Linked DNA regions of Homo sapiens: all the other regions are linked to region 2. The links come from fine-mapping of genetic effects on plasma protein levels. A gene starts in region 2. Each other region holds a variant in brackets. All regions are shown on one strand. Distances are from middle to middle.

Region 1 (8,186 bases), 17 kb before region 2:
TTTATGAGGCCAGCATCATTCTGATACCAAAGCCAGGCAGAGACACAACAAAAAAAGAGAATTTTAGACCAATATCCTTGATGAACATTGATGCAAAAATCCTCAATAAAATACTGGCAAAATGAATCCAGCAGCACATCAAAAAGCTTATCCACGATGATCAAGTGGGCTTCATCCCTGGGATGCAAGGCTGGTTCAATATACGCAAATCAATAAATGTAATGCAGCATATAAACAGAGCCAAAGACAAAAACCACATGATTATCTCAATAGATGCAGAAAAAGCCTTTGACAAAATTCAACAACTCTTCATGCTAAAAACTCTCAATAAATTAGGTATTGATGGGACGTATTTCAAAATAATAAGAGCTATCTGTGACAAACCCACAGCCAATATCATACTGAATGGGCAAAAACTGGAAGCATTCCCTTTGAAAACTGGCACAAGACAGGGATGCCCTCTCTCACCACTCCTATTCAACATAGTGTTGGAAGTTCTGGCCAGGGCAATTAGGCAGGAGAAGGAAATAAAGGGTATTCAATTAGGAAAAGAGGAAGTCAAATTGTCCCTGTTTGCAGACGACATGATTGTATATCTAGAAAACCCCATTGTCTCAGCCCAAAATCTCCTTAAGCTGATAAGCAACTTCAGCAAAGTCTCAGGATACAAAATCAATGTACAAAAATCACAAGCATTCTTATACACCAACAACAGACAAACAGAGAGCCAAATCATGAGTGAACTCCCATTCACAATTGCTTCAAAGAGAATAAAATACCTAGGAATCCAACTTACAAGGGATGTGAAGGACCTCTTCAAGGAGAACTACAAACCACTGCTCAAGGAAATAAAAGAGGATACAAACAAATGGAAGAACATTCCATGCTCATGGGTAGGAAGAATCAATATCGTGAAAATGGCCATACTGCCCAAGGTAATTTACAGATTCAATGCCATCCCCATCAAGCTACCAATGCCTTTCTTCACAGAATTGGAAAAAACTACTTTAAAGTTCATATGAATCAAAAAAGAGCCTGCATCGCCAAGTCAATCCTAAGCCAAAAGAACAAAGCTGGAGGCATCACGCTACCTGACTTCAAACTATACTACAAGGCTACAGTAACCAAAACAGCATGGTACTGGTACCAAAACAGAGATATAGATCAATGGAGCAGAACAGAGCCCTCAGAAATAACGCCGCATATCTACAACTATCTGATCTTTGACAAACCTGAGAAAAACAAGCAATGGGGAAAGGATTCCCTGTTTAATAAATGGTGCTGGGAAAACTGGCTAGCCATATGTAGAAAGCTGAAACTGGATCCCTTCCTTACACCTTATACAAAAATCAATTCAAGATGGATTAAAGACTTAAATGTTAGACCTAAAACCATAAAAACCCTAGAAGAAAACCTAGGCATTACCATTCAGGACATAGGCATGGGCAAGGACTTCATGTCTAAAACACCAAAAGCAATGGCAACCAAAGCCAAAATTGACAAATGGGATCTAATTCAACTAAAGAGCTTCTGCACAGCAAAAGAAACTACCATCAGAGTGAACAGGCAACCTACAAAATGGGAGAAAATTTTTGCAACCTACTCATCTGACAAAGGGCTAATATCCAGAATCTACAATGAACTCAAACAAATTTACAAGAAAAAAACAAACAACCCCATCAAAAAGTGGGCAAAGGACATCAACAGACACTTCTCAAAAGAAGACATTTATGCAGCCAAAAAACACATGAAAATATGATCACCATCACTGGCCATCAGAGAAATGCAAATCAAAACCACAATGAGATACCATCTCACACCAGTTAGAATGGCAATCATTAAAAAGTCAGGAAACAACAGGTGCTGGAGAGGATGTGGAGAAATAGGAACACTTTTAAACTGTTGGTGGGACTGTAAACTAGTTCAACCATTGTGGAAGTCAGTGTGGCGATTCCTCAGGGATCTAGAACTAGAAATACCATTTGACCCAGCCATCCCATTACTGGGTATATACCCAAAGGAATATAAATCATGCTGCTATAAAGACACATGCACACGTATGTTTATTGTGGCATTATTCACAATAGCAAAGACTTGGAACCAACCCAAATGTCCAACGATGATAGACTGGATTAAGAAAATGTGGCACATATACACCATGGAATACTATGCAGCCATAAAAAATGATGAGTTCATGTCCTTTGTAGGGACATGGATGAAATTGGAAATCATCATTCTCAGTAAACTATCGCAAGAACAAAAAACCAAACACCACATATTCTCACTCATAGGTGGGAACTGAACAATGAGATCACATGGACACAGGAAGGGGAACATCACACTCTGGGGCCTGTTGTGGGGTGGGGGGAGTGGGGAGGGATAGCATTGGGAGATATACCTAATGCTAGATGACGAGTTAGTGGGTGCAGCGCACCAGCATGGCACATGTATACATATGTAACTAACCTGCACATTGTGCACATGTACCCTAAAACTTAAAGTATAATTAAAAAAAAAAAAAAAAAAGGATCTCACTTGTGGCTACATCCACCATTCCAGAAGGTGCAGGATGTAAATCTTGGCAGTGCCCACTGGTTGCTAATTTTGTAGCCTTGCCTATTATAGATTTCAAAAGATGCCTCAGAGAGACTCGGGGCTCAAATAATTGACACAAGGACAGGGTCACCACAGAGTTTGTCCACTAGGGCAATTACTAGTAGAACTTTGGGGAGTGGGTTTTCTTCAAAACCCTAACTGTAGATCCAGCAGTGTGAGATGCCACCTGTAGAGGGCTGCATAAAAGAGACTCTAACCTCTGATAGCTACTTCCTGGGATGCATCCAGCAAAATCATGGGGGCCCAACCCTCACCCCAATATGTAGAGAAGGTTTGACTTGGAGCCAAAGACGATTATTCTCAAACCTCAAGATTTAATGTTATTTGCTTTGGTGGGAATTGGGCTTATTACAGACTTATTACAGACTTATTATTTATTTTTATTTTCCATTTCTCTCTTTTGGAATGAGGCTGTCCATCCTGTGCCTGTCCCATCACTATATTGTGGAAGTACATAACTTACTTGATTTCACAGCTGGAGAAACATGTGCCTCAGAATGAATCATACTTGACTTTCACACGTATCTGATTTTGATTATATTTAGATGATAATCTGGACCTTAGACTTTTAAGAGGATACTATAATGAGCTAAGACTTTTGGGGCTTTTGGGATGAAATGAAACATTTTGTACCTGAGAAATACATGATTTTTAGGCAGCTAGAATGCTGCAGTTTGAATGTTTGTCTTCTCCAAAGTTCATGTTGAAATTTAATTGCCATTGGAACAATGTTAAGAGGTGGGACTTTTATGTGGTGACCAGGCCATGAGGATTCTAAAGAACAATTCCTCCTTTCAGGAGCACACACACGCGTGCACACACACACACACACACACACACGGGTTTGTGGTGCTAGTGTGTGTGTAAAAGACAAATTAAATTGCAGGTTAAGAATTGGGTGATGTCTTACATTTATTCACTTTTTAAGCTCTTCTTGTGGAGCCTCTGTCCTTGACCATAATCAATGGGTGGTTATGTGTTGAAATCATTCAGAATCCAGATAGCTGGATGAGTTGCATGTGGAAATAAGTAGAGGAAAATCAGTATTTTGGGAACTCAGGGAATGGCCCTGGAGCTAAACTGCATGTCTGAATCTAGTGCCAACACATAGTAGCTGTTTGGTTTTTTAAAATTTTATTTTCGGTTCAGGGGTACATGTGCACGTTTGTTATACAGGCAAATTGTGTGTTGCAGGAGTTTGATGTATGGATTGTTTCATCACCCAGGTAATATGCATAGTATCTGATAGGTAGATTTTCAATCCTTACTTTCCTTCCACCTTCTATCTTCAAGTAGGCCCTGTGTCTGTTGTTCCTTTCTTTGTGTCCATATGTACTTGATGTTTGGCTCACACTTTTAAGTGAGATCATGCAATATTTGGTTTTCTATTCCTGTGTTAGCAGCTGTTTTAATCTTGCAGGAGTTACCTAGCCTTTCTCTTGCCTTCATTTTTTTTATGTGTCAAATATGGTTCGTAGCAGCACCTACATTATTAGGTTTTCATGGGGATTAAATGGTTTCTAATTAGGCAAGCATTTAGAATTGTGCCTGGCATAGACAGCATGTGACAAAAATTAATGTTTAAAAATCAGAGGTTTCTTGTGAAGCAGAATAGGCTAACTTATAAGTAGGTTTCCTTACACCTGCAGAACACAGCAGACCATGGAATGTCCTTGCTGCATTTGTTATTTGTTCAGCTCCTTTCTTTTCCAGTCTAAAGTTTGCAGACAGGCTATTATTTACATGCCTGCCAAGGATTTAAACAAGTGGGAGATTATCTCTCTCTCATATGTCTAAAATCTCAATTCCAAAGGTGGAAAGCAGAGAATACCTCTTGGAAAATGGCAAACAGCACCTAGAATCAGCCATAGCCTTGGAATTTTCTTGGCGTTATTGGAGGCTTATCAGAAAGTTTCCCCACTTAAGGACATATTAACACTAGATTTCCAGGAGACTGCTTTCCATATACAAGAAGACTGCTGGAGGGAATATGATGGGAAAGACCTGAAATGAGCTTCTTGGAATCTTGTAAAACTATGTCACAGGAAGGGCCTTGTTTTCTGGAGGACAATGAGATAAACCTTGAACAGATAGGAAATACAGTTTATATGCAAAAGGCATCACTTTGGAACAAAGTAGCTGCCAGGTAAAGGTATCAGTTTTATTAGCTTGCACGCGGAATTTGGCCAGTCACATGTGCAAGCAATAAAGTTAATAACATCTCAATGTGTTTCCAGATACTGGTAGCAATAAAGATTTTTATGGGAATACTGTGTCAATTGTTGATACAGTATTGAACTGAATCTCTCTCTGTTTTATATCATGCCAGTTACAGTGTATTTCATTATGTATTTTAAAGTATTAGATCTTTTATATCTGGAATGTTTTTGCTTGCTTTAAGTCTTCTTGAAGTAAATAAGAACTCTCATATTTAAAAAAATTATGCCACAAAGAATTTTTTTAATTTTAAACTATTAATTACTTGTTCATTTTTTTTGCAAGATACACTTATTATGGTACCAAGTATACTGGACTCCTACCTACTGTATCTTTT[A/C]TGAAGTCTGAAGAATATGATTGACTTTCTTATTTATAAGAAAAAAGATATCTTAACCTGGCTATAAGCTTGTAAGATAGCATAAATATTTTTACTAAATGCAGAAATAAGTTGGATTAACATAACAAACACCTATGAACCTGCCAAGTAGAATAAATAATGTCAACGTTTGTCATCTTTGTTTAATATTATTAGTTTTATTTAAAAAGTTATAAATTCTCCAGGCAAATACTGTGATAGATTTTTCTTTTTATTCTGTGTATATGCAACAATGTAGCAAAAATTATCTCATCAATATCTGACAACTTGATCTTGGACTTCCCCGTCTCAAAAAATTAGAAAAATAAATTTGTGCTCATTAAAAATTACCCAATCTCAGTTATTTCATTCTGTTATAGCACACAAAATGAACTAAAACTAGAAGAATGCCAACCTGGTATCTATCACCTCTTCCTCACTAATGACATAAGCAAGAATTTACATGATGTGTCAATGTATCACAATAAAGAACATTTTATTACTATTATTATTATTACATACATTTTTTTTTTGAGACGGAGTCTCACTCTGTCGCCCCGGCTGGAGTGTAGGGGTGCTATCTCAGCTCACTGCAAGCTCCGCCTCCTGGGTTCAGGCCATTCTCCTGCCTCAGCCTCCCGAGTAGATGGGACTACAGGTGCCCACCACCACAACCGGCTAATTTTTTGTATTTTTAGTAGAGACGGGGTCTCACCATGTTAACCAGGATGGTCTCGATCTCCTGACCTCGTGATCTGCCCGCCTCTGCCTCCCAAAGTGCTGGGATTACAGGCATAAGCCACCGTGCCTGGCCAACATTCTCCTTTTTAAATACAGAAGGCACAAAACTAGCAGAATATAAATTGCTGTAACATATGAGGCTGAGGAATAGAAGTGGAATTTGGAAACCCAAACTGGATTTTCTCTCAAGTGAAAGGATCCTTTCCTCAGAGGATCAACGACATGTCTCCAAGGCAAGGTAAATTCACAAATCTAAATTAAACCGATAACGTATTTCTGGCTATGAAATGACAAAAAGTGTAAGACAGATAACCATATAACCTTTAAACAAATGTCATTATGCCAATTGAGGAGATGAATATTAACCAGGTTTCAGAAGAATGAAGATAGTAAGAAAATCAAGGAAAAATTATCAAGTTTATCTTCTCTAAACTCATGTCGACATTTAATTGAACATTGTAATCATTTTTACATGGACCTTTAAGAAGTGATTGAGCCATGAAGGCTCTGTTCTCATAGGTGAAGTTAATACCATTATAAAATGGCTAGTTTCATTCCCTTTTGCTTCTTTGCCCTTCAGCCTTTTGCCATGTCATGAAACAGCAGGAAGGCCCTTGAAAGATTCCAGCTTCTTGATAATGAACTTTTAAGTCTCTGGAACTGTCAGAAAATAAATTTCTGTTTATTATAAATTATCCAGTCTCAAGTGTTTTCTTCTAGTTGTAGAAAATGGACTAAGATAGAAATTTGTACCAGAAGTGGGGTTGTTACTATAAAAAACACCTAAAAATGTGTGTCAGATTTGGAACTGAGTAATGGGCAGAGGGCAGAAGAGTTTAGAGGATCAGGCTAGAAAAAAGCCTAGATTGCTATTAACAGAGTGTTAAGGGCTATGCTGGTGAGGGCTCAAGAAGAGGAGAGCTATAGGCTAAACCTAAATCAGCAGTGAGATTACTTAAGTGGTTTTCAAGTGAATAATAGCAATATGAATGGTAGAGGTAATTCTGATGAGATCCCAGATGGAATTGTAGAACATGGTATTGCACAATGACCCGAGGGTTATCCTTTTTACCAAGAGGCAACAAACATGGCTGAATTGTCTTTGTGTCCCAACATTTTACGAAAGGCAGAATTTAAGAACCACAAGTTAGGATATCTGGTGGAAGAAATATCTAAGTAGCAAATTGTTAAGGATGCTGCATGACTTTTTTAAACTGTCAATAGTAAAACTTGAGAAAAGGGGAAAAAATTAAATATGAAATGTACATTGAAAAGGAAGTAGAAAGTAAAGATTTGGAAAATTCTTAGTCTGGCTGTGTTTTAAATAAAGAAAAGGCATATTCAAAAAAGAAAAACCTAGGGTGTGGCCAAATTTTGATAAGGAGATTAGCTCCCATCACAAACCCAGACAGAATGCCAATGCCTGGAGAACAGAATTAGATCAAAAGAGGACTCTTGAGAGCCCTTGGGACCTTGTTACTCACTACTCAGGGCTTCCTCAAATCTCTGATTCCTGCATTCCTAAGCAGCTCTTTTAAGCCATCTCAGAAATGGCTTAACGAAGCCCAGATGTGGTGCTGGCCATCACTCCAGAAGGCACAGGGCACAAGTTTTGATGGTGTCCATAGCATGTTAATTCTCCAGGATTGCTGACTGTAGGAGCTAGATTTCAAAAAATGTGTCAGGGAGCCTCAGGGCTCAAAGAGAGAACTGACACAGGTGCAAGGCCACCACAGAGATTACCCACTAGGACAATTCCTAATGAAACATTAGTTGGGGGGTTGCTAGGCAAATAGCTAAACATAAGCAGGAGGGAAGAACTCATGACAAAAGGGAGGTTTGAAAAATTTTACACCCCAGAGAATACCTAAAACAGGCATGCTAAATATAAGCCAAAAAGAGGAAATAAACTCTCTGTTCTCTATTTTCCTTCAATACATTCTCTTTTTTGGTTAAATCAATCGCTTGGCAGAATTCTTCCTCCAGTTAAAACTAATCAAAAATTCCTGCACTTCCCAGTAACAGTTGGAAGCCCCAGCTGCAGCGAACTTTGGGGATAATATTCCAGCCTGTGAGAGCTGCTGCATTGGTTGCTCCCAGAAAAGCCATGGAGGCCTAACCCCTGCCCCAGTCTGTGCTGATAGTGGGACTTGAAGTCAAAACAAAAAATTCTCAAATGTCGGGATTTAATGTTGTTGTTGTTGTTTTTTTTTTTTTGGTGGGGGTTTGGACTTAGTGGGAGCCTGTTAATTCTTTT
Region 2 (8,186 bases):
ACCATGGAAAATTCTTGGGGCATATGGTACTCCTTCAGCTCCTTTCCTTTCCAGTCTGAAGTTTGCAGACAGGCTGTTATTCACATGCCTGCCAAAAGTTTTAAACAAAAGAGAGATTCTGTCTCCATAATAAGTCTAAAATCTGTTAAAAGGTGGAAAACAGGGAACAGCAGATAGAAGATGGCCAATAGCGCTAAAAATAAGCCATAGTCTTGAAACTCTCTAAGCTTTATTGAGGCGTATCAAGAAATTGCCCCCATTTGGGGATATACTAACACTAGTTATCCAGTTTACCCCTTTCCACCTATGTGAAGACTAACAGAAGAAATAGATAGGAAAGGCCTAAAATCAGCTTCTTAGAACTTTGTAAAACTAGTTCAGGGGACAGGACCTTCAGAATCCTGAGGACAAGGAGATAAATCTTAAAGGATTGGGAAATATGGCTTCCTTGACAAAGGCATCATTTTGGAACCAAAGTGGCTGCCAGTAAATGTCCTCAATTTTACTACCTGGCCTGTGGAATTTGGTCAGTAACCTATGTGAGCAATAACGGTTAGTTATCTAAACGGGCATACAGCTATTGGGGCAATAAACATTTTATGAGAGTTGCGTCAACTGTTATTTGTTTTAAAATGCTTTCATATCGTGCTAGCCACAATGTGTTTTATTATATATTTGAAAGTATTAGATCTTTTGTACCTGAAAAGTCATTGTCTAGTTGAAGTCTTCTTGATGTAAAGAAAAACTCTCATTTAAAAAATTACCACAAATAATTTTTTTGTATTAATTTTTAAAAATTGGCCCAACAGAGTGGCTCCTGCCCATAATACCAGCACTTTGGGAGGCTGAGGCAGGCAGATGGCTTGAGCCCAGGAGTTTGAGACCAGCTTGGGCAACATAGTAAAACACTGTCTCTACTGAAAATACAAAAATTAGCCTGGCGTGGAGGTGTGCGCCTATACTCCCAGCTACTCAGGAGGCTGAGGCGGGAGAACAGTTGAGCCCAGGGGCTCAAGACTGATGTGAGCCTTGTTTGAGCCATTGCACTCTAGCCTAGGTGACAAAGAGAGACCCTGTCTCAAAAATAATGATAATACTACTACTACTACTAATAATTGCTCGTTTGATTTTGGCAAGATAAACTTATGGTAACAAGCATACTAGATTTCTCTTTTCTTCATCCCTTTCTAACTCTGAATAATATGATTGAAATTCTTACAGAAAAAAAAACTCAAATCTTTCTCTGGTTGTAAGCTTTAAAGAAAATTATTTTTAGAAAATGCTGAAATAAATTAGAGTAGTTTGACAAACACTTTTGAACCTGTTAGACTAAACAGTATTAACCTCTGTCATCTATGTTTAAAATGATTATTATAAAGGGACAAAATTATATATTCTCCAGGAAAACAGTAATGTAAACGGTAAAAAGATCCCTGTTCAAAGTTTCCCTTCTTGTTAAAGAATAAATCATAAGTGTTAGAAATAATAGTTTATTTTAAAGACGAACTTCCTTCAAGCCCCCTCGCTTTACGCTAATAACTCTTTGTTAAGCCCTATCTTATATAGCTGTTGAACAGTCACAGGCACGTAGTACATTCCATGTCCTTGTACCTTAACCAAGATATTTGTGTTGGACGTGCTCATAGGTATGTCCTAGTTCACAGCCTGTGCCCCTTCCTTATTTGGAAATATTATTATTTTTGTACCTATTTTAAAAAGTTTTAAATTATTAGCCAATCAGGTTTTAATTTAGATTGTGAGGTCTGGCTCCAGCCAATGGAGACAGGACACAGCAATAGGGACCTCATGCGTAAGGAATAAATATTCTGGTGTCTCTTCATTCTGTGTATGCCCTTGCCATTGTTCCATCTGTGAGGGGCATCCTTTCTGCAGAAATTAAAAATTGCCTCGCTGAGAGAACTTTTTGTCTGAATGCTGACTTTTCCTTGCAGAACTGAGAAACAAACATTTTGCATTTCTAATGAGTATGAAAATTTTTTGTATAGTGTTTTATTACGGATTTATTTTACTTTAAACTACATGTGAATAGATAAAAAAATATAAATAATTAGCTTTTTTAAAGCACATATAAATATTATTAGTTTGTAAATTTTTGCAACTTTTAAAATTCATTTTGTTTATATATGCTTTTGAAATGAGCTCATGTTTATATAAATATATTTAGTTTATTTAATTTAACTCCTGTTAGTATTTCAAAATATATTATTTTGTCATTTATCCCAATTGATATAGCCATCCTTATTTCTGTGAACATTTTGGTTAGTTTTTCAACTGAATTTTAAATTCCAGATTTGCTCTTGTTCCCTGATTCTGAATGGGTATTTAATGGGAATTTCAGTAAGCTTTTAATTTCACATCACTATCTGTAACTTCACAACAACAGACAATTGACTTCAAACCAACAACTTCATATTCCATTACTTTGAGCTTACTTAGGCATCAGCTCCCTGCAGTTCCCACCTGCTTGGACTTTGAGAACATCTGTATCATGCTAGCTACTTATGCTGAAACCTTGCTGGAAACGCTGGCTTAAATTTACGTAACTACTAAACCTTGTGATGTGGTGTGGCTCTGTGTCCCCACCCAAATCTCATCTCAAATTGTAATCCTCATAATCCCCATGTGTGGATTGAGGAACCTAGTGGGAGGTGATTGGATCACGGGAGTAGTTTCCCCCATGCTGTTCTCTTGATAGTGAGTGCATTCTCACAAGATCTGATGGTTTTATAAAGGGCTCTTCCCTCTCCACTCTCTCTTGCTCACCTGCCACCATGTAAGACATGCTTTGCTTCCCCTTCGTCTCCATGATTGTAAGTTTCCTGAGGCCTCCCCATCCTCAGGAAAGTCTGTGAGTCAATTAAACTATGAGTCAATTAAACCTCTTTCCTTTTTAAGTTACCCAGTCTCTGGTATTATCTTTATAGCAGTATGAAAAGGACTAATACACCTTGCCTTCTGAAGTAGGTCTTGAGAGGTTCCTGAACCTGAAAGGGAATGGAGAAATGACTTAAAGCCACCAGCTAATTGGGCTTAATCATTTGGACTCAGTTGACTCTTCCCCTACCCCTACCCATGCCTAAACCAAAGAAAGGATCATCCCACATTTACCTAGCACAAAGAAATCTACTCTTCTGCTCTTTCTAGGACTGCTAAAGGCCATGGGAACTGGACACCTGGATGCTGCAGAGGAAGAGCAAAGCTCAACATCAACTTGGACAGTTTGCCAACCTGTTTGTGGTAAGTTGATGTCATTTGTGACCACTCCTAATGTGTGCCAGGAATAAGCTATTCCTGATGCCAGAATCTCTTACTGTCAGTGCCCTCTGTAGGCCTTCTGATCCTTACTCCTTGCTCCACCCATTGTTTATATCATGTAGTTCTCTCTCAGACCCTGATATAAAGCTCCTACTCTGTCTGACCTGACAAGCCACCTCAAGTGGACAAGGCACTTACCAACAGGTAAAGGGGCATTACAGGAGAAGAGCATGTCTAACGTGGGATTTTCTCTTTTCATTTTGAGGTAGATACAGGGTGATTTTCTGAATAAAAGATCCCAGTAGTAATGAAACTTAAGCAAGACCAAAGCTGATTTCGGGTAATTTGGCCTCTGTTATCCCCAAACCAAAAGAGAAATATCTGGGAGTGTAGCTATCTCAGTGGACCTTTCGGCTCACAGGAATTCAGAGAGGAGAGGATGTTAGAAAGATAACAGGTGCTCTGCTCTCTTCTTCAAACCCTCTTCCCTGTGTTCTCCTACAGAGATTGCTGATTTGCTCCTTAAGCAAGAGATTCACTGCCGCTAAGCATGGCTCAGACCAACTCGTTCTTCATGCTGATCTCCTCCCTGATGTTCCTGTCTCTGAGCCAAGGTGAGATTTTCCCCCACACTTCCCACAACCCCAACTCTGAATTCTTCCCTCCATCCTCATGTATAAGGTTCACTTGAAAAAAAGCAGAGTCAACATCAGGGTTTTTTTATGTTGTTCAGTGATCATTATGGCTGATTTTATCCCATTCAAAAACACCCTCACCTCATTCATGGGTTTGAGACAGAATTTAATAGGACCACTTATAGGTGACCATTGTGGTTGAGTTTATCTGATTGAATCTATATGCGATGGCAGTTTGGGGGATGTTTTTATGTAGTCATTGCTAGGATGGAGAGCTAAGGCAAACGTGTGCAGGGAAACCGAGAGAAACTTGAGAAAGGAGGAAGCCTGGGTCTTTAAAGGCAGAAGCCTCAGCCTCAGAATTAAAGGAAAACGAGGACTCATTTATTTAGCCTATTCATTGTGAGCTCTTGTCTTGAGCAGAGGAAACTAGAGAGAAAAGAGATAGGATGCAGGAGGGCAGAAGTGAGCAATCGCCCCAGTATTCACTGTATCCATATGTTCTTATAAAGGACACCAAGAAGCCCCTAATTCACCTTCCAGCCTTTTCCTTGCCCTGCGATTCTTTCTTAATTATCTCCTTTTTTTTTTCCCCAGGCCAGGAGTCCCAGACAGAGCTGCCTAATCCCCGAATCAGCTGCCCAGAAGGCACCAATGCCTATCGCTCCTACTGCTACTACTTTAATGAAGACCCTGAGACCTGGGTTGATGCAGATGTGAGTGAGGAGAGCAGCAGGGGAAGGGAGGCTTATGAAGGTAGAGGCAGCTGCTAATTTGCAGTGTGTTCTGTGGCTGCAATGAGATAAGATTGATCCCTTCCCTATTCCACCACTGGTCCCAAACTTCCCAATCTACTTTATCCCATCATTTGACACATTCCCAGCACAGAGATGCTGGTGGTCAGTGACAGCATCATCAGGGACATTTCTGTGCTGTCCTTTTTCTGTTACATCCTCTGGAAGGTCTCAGTATATCCCTCACACCTTCCTTCTCCACTGAGTGCTCCATTTTCTTCTCCAACAGCTCTATTGCCAGAACATGAATTCAGGCAACCTGGTGTCTGTGCTCACCCAGGCGGAGGGTGCCTTCGTGGCCTCACTGATTAAGGAGAGTAGCACTGATGACAGCAATGTCTGGATTGGCCTCCATGACCCAAAAAAGGTCAGTCTGCAGCCACCTCTATCTCCTTATAAACATTTTTGAGAGGTAAGAGGGACGTTTAAGGTCTGGCACCGCAATCACCAACTTTTATCTTTTTGTTTGTTTAAATAAAAGCAACCTCTTTATAGATCCTATAATGTATGAGTTGTGAAGTTCAGTGTAGGTAGTTAGAGACATGAGCTGAAGGCTGAATTTTCTGGGCTCTGGGAATTCATGCACCCACTCATTGTGTCTACTTCTAGAAATGCATCTTTATGTACAACTTTTTCCCTATTTTGCTATTGTCTGTCTTGGAAGAGGTCCCTCTGTAGACTATATAGAAAATGAGTAGTGGAGGAGAATCTACTGCTGGCATTTGTTATACATTTTATACAAGTGTATAAAACTGTACAGTATATTATTTAGTTTAACACTATAAACTAAATAATATATCAACGACTACTCTACAGCCAATGTTATGCTGGATATGAGAGTTCTGAGATTCAGGAAAAAAATCAGAAACCACTCTCTTTAATGGGCTTTTATGGGTCTCTGTATCAAATTCTGAACACTTATTATTTGCTGGAAGAGGAGGAGGAATTCGGACATTCTAGAGAAGGAGAAGCTTAGAGCAAAAGCAGAGGAAATGATATGATATTCATGGTGACAACAATGTTTATTCTTTCTGCTATAACTTGGCCTGTTTCTGAGTGTGCACACAGGCCTGGTTATTCTATTGATTTTTGAGTGACCATGGCCCCTGTTCTGGCCCTTCTCCATCTAGAACCGCCGCTGGCACTGGAGTAGTGGGTCCCTGGTCTCCTACAAGTCCTGGGACACTGGATCCCCGAGCAGTGCTAATGCTGGCTACTGTGCAAGCCTGACTTCATGCTCAGGTGAGAGGCAGACAATCTATCCACCTGTTGCCATTTCCTTCCCACTTATCTCTGGGGATGAACATGGGGACTGGGATAGAGGAAAGGTAAGCTCCTTATCTGGAAAATAAAGAAGTATTTCCTCTAGTTTTTTGTTCTGAGTCCTAGGTTGAGGAGGGGCTACACTCCTTCTGATCCTCTATGTCTGACACTTCTCATTGTACCATAGGATTCAAGAAATGGAAGGATGAATCTTGTGAGAAGAAGTTCTCCTTTGTTTGCAAGTTCAAAAACTAGAGGAAGCTGAAAAATGGATGTCTAGAACTGGTCCTGCAATTACTATGAAGTCAAAAATTAAACTAGACTATGTCTCCAACTCAGTTCAGACCATCTCCTCCCTAATGAGTTTGCATCGCTGATCTTCAGTACCTTCACCTGTCTCAGTCTCTAGAGCCCTGAAAAATAAAAACAAACTTATTTTTATCCAGTGTTCTGTCTTCTGCATTTGCTCTTTCTACAGCCCATGCTTGGGTGGTTGGGGTGGGAATGATTGTCACACTCCAGAGCTTGCCATGGCCCATCCACTTGTTAAAACCCCACTCACATTTTATGTATGTCAGGCTTATGAACATGTGGTGGCCTTGTTTATGACAAGATAAAAAGATTAAGATTTCATCCACAACACATGTTAGCATGAACCTAGTGTGAATTACACAAATAATTAAATTGTTGATCCAGTCTGACTGGAGTATTTAATATTCCAGAAGAATTCGCATAGTTGGGGTCTGAGGAGAACACATCTGTTCTTGGTTATGCAATTTGAAGTCATGACTGAAATGATAACTTAAGGAGAATTGTCAGGTCTGCGGTCCTGAGTGCATTAGTGGTACATTTTTGGAGGCCAGCCTGCAAAGTTTGTTAAATGCTACTCCTTGGATGAATGAATAAGTGAATGATCAATTATGTAAATTAAATATACAGGCATACTTAATCATCTCTTTAAATATCCTAACTCTCAATAAAGTTAAATTCTGAAATATTACTCTTAGGACTTTCACAAATTAATTGTGCAGGGACACAGTTCAGCCCATAACATCAATCATATCAATAATAGAGTTAAATGTGATTTGATAACAAAGGAAACAAATTGTCATCCTGGATTAAAGTAACAACAATGAAAACAAGATTCAACTGTATGCTATGTATGAGAGACATGAGTTAAATTAAGACACAAATAGCTTGAAAATAAAAGGAAGGAAATAGACATATCTTGCAAACAGAAACCATAAGAACACTGGTTTCTGTACTGTTACCCAGTGTAATGCCTATATGAGATTGCTGAATTTCTACCCTGTCTGAACTCTGCTTATCTTTAAGAAACAGAATGCCTGTGGTAAAAAGTTTCCTTTATAACTAGTCCAGCTGATACTGGTTAGAATCAAGATCACCATCAAAGGACCTCAGAAAGACATCTGGTTCATTATAATCTCATTTCCATGCTAAATGACACTCCTACCAGCACAATGACAGCTGACAATCACCATGACAATGGCCAGAAGAAGCAATAAAGGTACAAAAAGGAAGCACACTCTGGTTCCTAGGAAGTTCACAACCTATTTCCAGAAAAGACATGAATATTCCTCCCTTTGTTTTTAATGCCCAGTCCTTTCATTGGAGAAACCCTATATTTTAACCACTTTACCCCTCACTAGCAGAGAAGCCAATTTGTGAGTCATGTTCCTGCTTCTCAATTCCATGGCCATCAAATAAATCCTGCAGTGCTTGACACTCACTTTCTGTTTCATGTATTGGCTTTGTGACACCAAATAGGGAAAGACTCCATCTTTTGGGGGACTGGTTTTGTCTGCAATGATACTAATATCAGACATATTTGACTTTAAAGCAAAAATGTTACTTGAGAAGAAAAGGAGTATTTTATAATAATAAAGTAGTTAATTCTTCAGGAAGATGTCTCAAAATACCTGAAACAGGTGGAACCCACTGCAGTGTGACAAAGCCGCTATAACCAGACTGCCCCTCCGGATTCCTCCTCTCTGGGGAGGACATCTCTGAAAGAAAGGCAGCAGCCTCAGTCAGGGGCTTATAGATAAACTCCCATCTCCCTGGGACAGAGCACCTGGGGGAAGGGGCAGCTGTGGGCCAAGCTTCAGCAGACTTAACCTTTCCTGTCTGCTGGCTCTGAAGAGAGCAGCGGGTCTCCTCGCACAGCACGCAAGCTCTGCTAAAGGACAGATTGCCT
Region 3 (8,186 bases), 54 kb before region 2:
AAAGTCCTACCCAGAGCAATTAGACAAGAGAAACAAGCAAAAGCATTGAAACTGGAAAGGAAGAAGTTACATTCTCTCTTTTTGTGAATGACATGATCTTACATTTAGAAAACCCTACAGACTACATTAAAAAATACTATTAGAAGTAATAAAATAATTTGATAAGGTTTCAGGTTACTAAATAAACATACAAAAATTAGTAGCATTTTTACACTAACCATAAACTCTCCTAAAGGAAATCAAGAAAACAACCATATTTCCAGTAACTACAAAAATACTTAGGAATAAATTTAACCAAAGAAGTAAAAGATCAGTGCAATAAAAATAATAAAACTGGTATCAAAGAAATTGAATAAAACACAAATAAATGAAACTTATCCCATGTTCATAGACTGGATAAGTTAATATTGTTAAAGTCTTCATACTACCCAAAGCAATCTACAGTTTCAATGCAATTCCTGTTGAATTTCTAATAACATTTTTCACAAAAGTAGGAAAAATAATCTTAAAATTGAGATAGACCCACAAAAGACCCCAGATATTCACAGCAATCTTGAGCCAAAAGAATAATGCTGGAAACATCATACAACCTGATTTCAAAATATACTACAAAACTATATTAATCAAGACAGCATTGTAGTAGCATAAAAACAAATCCATAGACCAATGGAGCAAAATAGCCCAGAAATAAATTCACATATTTACAGTCAATGGAGTTTTTAAAGATGCCAAGAATAGATAATGTTGATAAACAGTTTCTTCAATAAATGGTGTTGTGAAAGCTTAACGTGCATACATAAAATAATAAAATTAGACGCTTATCTCATACTGTACAGAAAAATAAACTCAAAATGGGTAAAGACTTGAACATAAGACTGGGAACTCTAAAACTACTACAAGAAAACTTAGGGGGAAATGTCACAACATTGTCCATGTTATGACTGTATGACAAAATCAACTGGAAAATCATTTTTTGGTTATAATAGAAAAAACGCAAGGGTAAAAAAGCAGAAAGAGACAAATGAGATTGTATCAAAATAAAAACTTCTGCACAGGAAAGGGAACAAATATTAGAGTGAAGGGACTACCTACAGAATGGGAGAAAATATTTACAAAGCATACATATGATAAGGGGTTAATATTCAAACTGTATGAGGAACTTAATAACTGGCAAAAAAATACCCCAATTTAAAAAATGGTCAAAGGACCTGAACAAACTTTTCTCCAAAGAAGATACAAATATCTAGAGGTATATGAGGAAAACGGCTTAACATCAGTTATCACTAGGAAAATTCAAATTAAAACCTCAGTGTCATCTCACCTCATACCGTTTACAATGGCTGTAATTAAAAATAAAAGGTAACAGTTGTTGGCAAGAATGCAGGGGAAAGGGGATATTTGTATAGTACTGGTGGTAATGTAAATTGCTATAGCAATTATTCAAAACACTATGGAGATTCCTCAAAAGATTAGAAAAGAATTACTGTATAATCCGGTGATTCCATTTCTGGGGAGATATCCAAAAGAAATGACATCCAATCCCAGCACTTTGGGAGGCCGAGGCGGGCGGATCGTGAGGTCAAGAGATCGAGACCATCCTGGCTAACATGGTGAAACCCCGTCTCTACTAAAAGCCCAAAAAATTACCAGGGCGTGGTGGCGGGCACCTGTAGTCCCAGCTACTCGGGAGGCTGAGGCGGGAGAATGGTGTGAACCCTGGAGGCGGAGCTTGCAGTGAGCCGAGATTGCGCCACTGCACTCCAGCCTGGGCAACAGAGCGAGACTCCTTCTCAAAAAAAGAGAAACGACATCCATATGTCAAGTGATATCTTCACTCCCATGTTCACTTAAACCTTACAATAGTTGAGATGGAGTCAAATTCGGTGTCAATCAACAGATGAATGGATAAAGAAAAGTATATACATACAAAGTGGAGTGTTATTCAGCCTTAAAAATAGAGGAAGTCCTGTCATTTGTGACAACATGAATTAACCTGGAGGATGTTATATTAAGTGAAATAATCCAAGCACAGAAAGACAAATACTGCATGATCTCACTACTATGTAAAATCTAAATATCTATATATAAATGGCAAAATGTCATGCTGAGATGAAAAATTCTTTAAAAGTTTAGCTCCCTTATTGGAAGATGAATAATGTGTTTCTCAAAAACCATTTTTTTTGGTATGAAATGCCGTGGTCCAATGAGTCTCTTTTTACACCAGCAACACGTATGACCCATGACCAGGACCCCTTTATTGACTCTCAGTATTCTTTTCAAAGTACACATGATTCTGTTTCTTCATTCATTGTACTTGAAATGTAACTAGAGATTTAGTCCAGTTATAATTGTATTAAAATATTTACATTGATATTTGGAGATGCATATATAAAACATTTCAGCTTTGGCTGAAAAAATGTTGCACTGAGGAACATAAACATTGTGTGGAGTTGAGGTATTTAGAAACCAAGAGGTATTCTATCAAGAAAATGTTAGCCAGAGATGCTGTCTGTAGAATGTGCATGTAATGTCTTAGGTGCTACTTGAAATTTATCATAGGGATGAGAAAAGTTTTCCAGTTGTATAATGCTTTTGGTGCATTCCTTCTTCAATTCCATCATTTTAAAGATTTTCAAAAGCTTATCATCTCTCTGCTGCCAACTTCCCACAGACCTTTCCTCAGACAATTAAATCCACACAAATCATCTTTTTCTAAAAGTCATTGACTACTCTAAGTGTGAAGAGCCCTCTTGTTTTATGGAGAGAGAAAATAATGTTCAGAGAAGAGTTGAGAGACAATTGTCTCACGTTTCTCCACTTCTTGCAAGCAGAGGCACTTACTGCCATTTTTTCTAGACTATCTTTCAAGAATGTTTGGGTAGTGAAAAACCTTTTTTTTTTTTGTTTGTTTTTTTGAGATGGAGTCTTGCTTTGTTATGCAGGCTGGAGTGCAGTGGCGCGATCTCGGCTCACTGCAACCTCCGCCCCCCAGGTTCAAGCGATTCTCCTGCCTCAGCCTCTCAAGTAGCTGGGATTACAGGCACGCTGTAATTTTTGTATTTTTAGTAGAGACGGGGTTTCACCATCTTGGCCAGGCTGGTCTTGAACTCCTGACCTCATGATCCACCTGCCTCGGCCTCCCAAAGTGTTGGGATTACAGGCGTGAGCCACCGCATCCAGCTGTGAAAAACCTTTAAAAGTAGAGACAGCATCTTCCTCCAGAGCAAAGGGTAGGTTTGCTTATAGTCTTGAAAGTTTCCATTCATAGTGAAGACAGGCATACTTACTCCCAGGTACAATAAAGAAGTCTCCCTCTGAAGCAAAGGGTAGGCTTGCTTGTTGCCCATTATAAGTGATTCAGGTTCGTTCCCTAAACTCTCATAATGTAATTACAGGGGCCATTTCTCCCCTGTAACATAACCCACTCAATGTGAAGGCATCTATCTGGCCCATCGATGTCACCTCCATGAGACTTAGAGTAAGGGAACCTAGGGTGAGTGTGCTGCTGCTTGTTCTGCTTACTGTACCATGAGTAATAAAAGTCCTTTGTCTTTTGCCAATCTCAAACTGTGGAAGTCTACCTTACCTTGCAAGTAGGGTAAAAATCTCAGAACCTTTATAATTCTTGACATGAAGTTAAATGATTTTTGCTTGCAGCACATTGGAAGAAAACAACAACCTCAGCTTTCTTTTTCTCTCTCTCTTTTTTTTTTTTGAAATGGAGTCTTGCTCTGTCACCCCAGCTGGAATGCAGTGGCACATCTCAGCTCACTGCAACCTCTGCCTCCCGGGTTGAAGCGATTCTCCTGCCTCAGCCTCCCAAGTAGCTGGGATTACAGGTGCCTGCCACTGTGCCTGGCTAATTTTTGTATTTTCAGTAGAGATGGGGTTTTGCCATATTGGCCAGGCTGGTCTCGAACTCCTGACCTCATGATCCGCCCACCTCGGCCTCCCAAAGTCCTGGGATTACAGGTGTGAGCCACTGTACCCGGCCCAGGAACAGCTCAGCTTTCTAAGAATGTCTCCCCAAAGAAAACCTGAAGGTAAAACAAATGTCCTTCCAAACATTTGCAAACATCAAATACTGTGGAGTTCAAGAGGATCACAGATTCGGGAATCTTGTAAGAAAATAAGTATGGAAGAAAATCAACCAGAGCACTACTAAAATTTGGGGTTATACAGTCAGAGTTTTTATTAGCCTATCCTCAACAACACTTACAAAAATAAATTTTAGGATTTTTGTTTGTTTCTTTAAGAATTTATCTATATTTCTAAAGCCATCTTCGTAACAACTTTTAAAATGCTGACCATTTAATAGTTGGAATCTTTGAACATTTTGAGTATAAAGTGCCAGAGAATACAATTATAGGTTATTTAACTATGGGGATATGTTCTAAAAAACGCATCCTTAGGTGATTTCATTTTCACGTGAACATCAAAGACTGTACTTACACAAACCTAGATGGGATAGCTACAAAGCGTCAGTAGCATAAGACTTTATTTGAAAATGTTCTGGCTGGGCGCGGTGACTCACGCCTGTAATCCCAGCACTTTGGGTGGCCGAGGCGGGTGGATCACGAGATCAGGAGATCGAGACCATCCTGACTAACACGGTGAAACCCCGTCTCTACTAAAAACACAAAAAATTAGCCGGGCGTGGTGGCAGGTGCCTGTCGTCCCAGCTACTCGGGAGGCTGAGGCAGAAGAATGGAGTGAACCCGGGAGGCGGAGCTTGCAGTGAGCACTCCAGCCTGGGCGACAGAGCAAAACTCCGTCTCAAAAAAAAAAAAAAAAAGAAAAAAAGAAAAGAAAATGTTCTTGGCCTAAGAAGAGTCCCAAGGGCCATTCTGACTTGGGGCAGGAAGGTGAAATGTTTTATGGGGCTTTAGCAAGGGTACTTCAGCCACCATCAAGGATAGAGGGACTGTTCCTGAGGATTAGCAGTCATAAATTGAGTAATTTGAATTTAATCAAAAGATATGAAGATAAATCGTTAGGGGATGAAG[T/C]ATTATGCAAGTGGGGATTAGTTGGAGGAGGGGGACATTAGCTGAAAGGGCATGAACATGAAAGTCCAGAGGAAATGTCTTAGGTATGAAGCCTTTTGATTCTTTCATGTGGGAAATAGAGTAATTGTTCCCCTTATACAAGTTTGAGTGAGGTTCATCGCAGAGGAGCATGAATTATTTGCCATGCTGTGCTATGCAGAATTATGACCCCCATGACCCTTGATGTTATGTAATGTGTGCCCTATGAATGTGAGCAGAACCTGTAAATAGGATGAGATTGAAAAACCACAACTATGTTATATTACATGGAAAAAGGGATTCTTGAAGATACAATGAAGGTTACTAATTCATTGACCTTGTATCAATAAGAAAGCAGGTTTTGGGAGATTCCTGGAGGGGCCCAGTCTAATCACGTGAGCCATTTGAAAGCAGATAATTTTCTCTGACTGGCAGCATAAGGGGAAGTCAAGAAATTCAAAGGCCAAAAAGAATTCACTGTCCTGTTGCTAGCTTAGAAGATGGAGAGGTTCTTGTACCAAGGAATCTAGCTGAGACTGGCACCTAAGCTGATAGCCAGCAAGGAAGTGGGAACCTCAGTGCTACAACTCTACAACTACAAGGAACTGAATTCAGTCAATAATCTGAATGAGAGTGAAAGTTTGTCACACAGCCAAGTTAAACTAATAAACTGACTTTACAGGGGAAAAACATATATGGGGATTAGTCTGGAATCCTCTTGTGAGTTATAATTACCTTCTCCAAAGATCAAAGACCTGGTTCCTCTAAAATTTTAATGAACAGATCTTAACCTATCTTCTGGTGCATTATAAGGCTATTTTAATCTATGCTAAGGAGACAACATGAAGGAAAATTCTTAGGTCTGGCCCTATTGTGTTCTTTAATTGGCTAAGTAGAGAAAATGCCAATGTTGAAAAGAACCAATAGGAAATTCTACTGGATGGTAGGATCAGAAGGCAAGCCAGCAAATCCAGTAAGGGAGATTCTCAGAAAGAACCTGGAGCTCCTTTTGCAAAAGATAGAGAGTGATCTTGATGGTTTTAAAAGTGTGCTCAACAGAGGAAGGAAAGCATAGGCTTTTCAGCTACTTGTGGGACAGTCCAAATTGAAATGCATGAATGGTTTGAGAAGTACATAAAGGTTATAACAGGGTGATGCAGGCAGTGGTCTTGTCAGGAAATGGACAGTGCAGAAGGACTGACCATACATGGACTGACAGAACCTGCAAGTGGAGGGTGCTCAGAGACCAAAACAAACAAACAACAACAACAACAGCAACAACAACAGTATATTAGACTACGAAGGAGAAAAAAAGAAGAATTGAGTTTTAGCTCTGCTTTCTTCCATAGTACAGTATTGGAAAAGTCAATTAAGTTACCAATATTTTAAACTCTATTTGCCCCACTGCTCCAAACAGGGATGCTCCATAACCATTCAGCAGCTCCCTTCTCCCTGTGTCTCAAAGACGGCCCTACTCCAGGTTCTCACTCTCTCTGCCTCTACTACTGCTGGCCTAGCCTGCATAACAGCTGCCAAGATTCCTGGAAGGTCTCAGCTGCTTGCTGGATCTTCAGGGCTGCAGGATAGGACATCTGGTTTCTGCTGAGCAAGGGCAAGGTCTGCCTTGAACTTGGAAAGGTTTCCAGTTTAGGGGAAGGGACTTCATCTGTGGCCATTCCCAGGATATGCCAGGAAGAGCTCCTCTTGATGCCAGAACCTCTTACTGTCAATGCCCTCTGTAGAACCGCTGTCTCTCACTCCTTGCTCCACCCCGGCTTAAATACTGTGGCTCTTCTCTCAGATCCTGTTATACATCTCTACCATTACCTAGCCTGAAAAGCCACCTCAGATTCAGCCAACAAGTAAGTGGGCATTACAGGAGAAGGGTACCTTTCACAAGGGCTGTAATCTAAAATCTTGGGGAAGATACAGCGTCATCTGTCCAAGAGGTGTCAGCAGTAACGAAGCCTCAGTAGAAGCCAAAGTTATTTTGGATTACTGAGCCTGTATAGTTTCCAGATTCTCAAGAGAAATATATGGGAATGTAGATATCTCAGAGGACCTTCCTGCTGTCAGGAATTCAGAGGAGGAAATAAGGAAGGTAATAGGTGCTCTGCTCTCATTCTCTCAAACCCTCTTCCCTGTGTTTTCCTATAGAGATTGCTGATTTGCTCCTTAAGCAAGAGATTCACTGCTGCTCAGCATGGCTCAGACCAACTCATGCTTCATGCTGATCTCCTGCCTGATGTTCCTGTCTCTGAGCCAAGGTGAGATTGTTTTCCCCACACATACCTCCCACAACCCCAGCCCTGAAGCCCTCACTCTATCCTCATGCATATGAGTTCACTTGAGAAAAAGCAGAGTCAAGTTCAGGGGTTGTCTTGTGTTGTTCAGTGATATTTATTGCTGATCTCATCCCATTCAAAAACATCCTGACCTCCCTAAGGAGTTAGAGATGGAACTTAGCATAACCCTTTATCAGTGACCACTGCAGTTGGCATTGGTTTGTCATATTAACACTACTCATGATGGGGGGGTTGAGGATGTCTGTTTGTAGACAGTCATTAGTGGAATGGGGAACTGAGGGGAGCTTTGTGTGTAGAGAAACTGGACAGGCTTGAGAAAGAAGCCTCAGTCCTTCAAGGAAGAAAAAGCCATAAGTAAAAGGGACAATGGGGACACTTTTCATGAGCCTATTCATTGTGTGCTCTTGTCTTGAGCAAAGACATCTTGAGAGCCTATAGGTAAGATGCAGAAGGGCAGAAGTGACCAATCGCTTCGTGACCTATAGGATCCTTCTATTCCTATAAAGAATCCTCAGAAGCTCCTACCTCATATTTTAGCCTTTACCTTGCCCTGAGGGTCTTTCTTAATTGTCTCTCTTTTCCCAGGACAGGAGGCCCATGCTGAGTTGCCCAAGGCCCAGATCAGCTGCCCAGAAGGCACCAGTGCCTAAGGCTCCCACTGCTACTACTTTAATGAAGAGCATGAGACCTGGGTTTATGCAGATGTGAGTGAGGAGAGCAGTGTGGGAAGGGAGGCTCACGAAGGGAGGGGAAGCTGCCACTCTCCAGTGTGTTCAGTGGCTGATATGAGATGAGACTAATCCCCTCCCTATCCAATCATCAGCCCAAAACTTTCCAATCTACTTTATCCCATCAT

Which allele goes with the higher level. Positions count from the first base shown, and alleles are read on the strand shown. Strength reflects both the effect of a copy and how common the allele is.
For the plasma level of the protein whose gene starts at base 3,446 in region 2, C is the high allele of the variant in region 1 and A is the other (moderate association).
In carriers of allele C in region 3, the plasma level of the protein whose gene starts at base 3,446 in region 2 tends to be lower than with T alone (moderate association).

The links. PIP is the posterior inclusion probability: the model's chance that the variant is causal. Protein levels are from antibody-based Olink assays in UK Biobank. Linkage for the fine-mapping came from a reference panel and not from the study's own genotypes, which makes the PIPs less certain.
Region 1: its variant is fine-mapped to the plasma level of the REG1B protein (UK Biobank, PIP above 0.99).
Region 3: its variant is fine-mapped to the plasma level of the REG1B protein (UK Biobank, PIP above 0.99).

Annotation. Positions count from the first base shown.
Region 1 is chr2:79,100,028-79,108,213 of GRCh38, reverse strand. No RefSeq gene overlaps it. Among named protein-coding and RNA genes, the nearest start is that of REG1B, 16 kb to the right of the region's middle. The variant A/C (reference allele first, on the strand shown) is at 5,171.
Region 2 is chr2:79,083,253-79,091,438 of GRCh38, reverse strand. It overlaps REG1B (regenerating family member 1 beta), which reads left to right and starts at 3,446. Exons shown (of 6, transcript NM_006507.4): 1 at 3,446-3,480; 2 at 3,781-3,890; 3 at 4,509-4,627; 4 at 4,935-5,072; 5 at 5,836-5,947; 6 at 6,156-6,416. The coding sequence starts at 3,827. The coding sequence ends at 6,223.
Region 3 is chr2:79,137,072-79,145,257 of GRCh38, reverse strand. It overlaps the pseudogene REG1CP. Among named protein-coding and RNA genes, the nearest start is that of REG3A, 19 kb to the left of the region's middle. The variant T/C (reference allele first, on the strand shown) is at 5,007.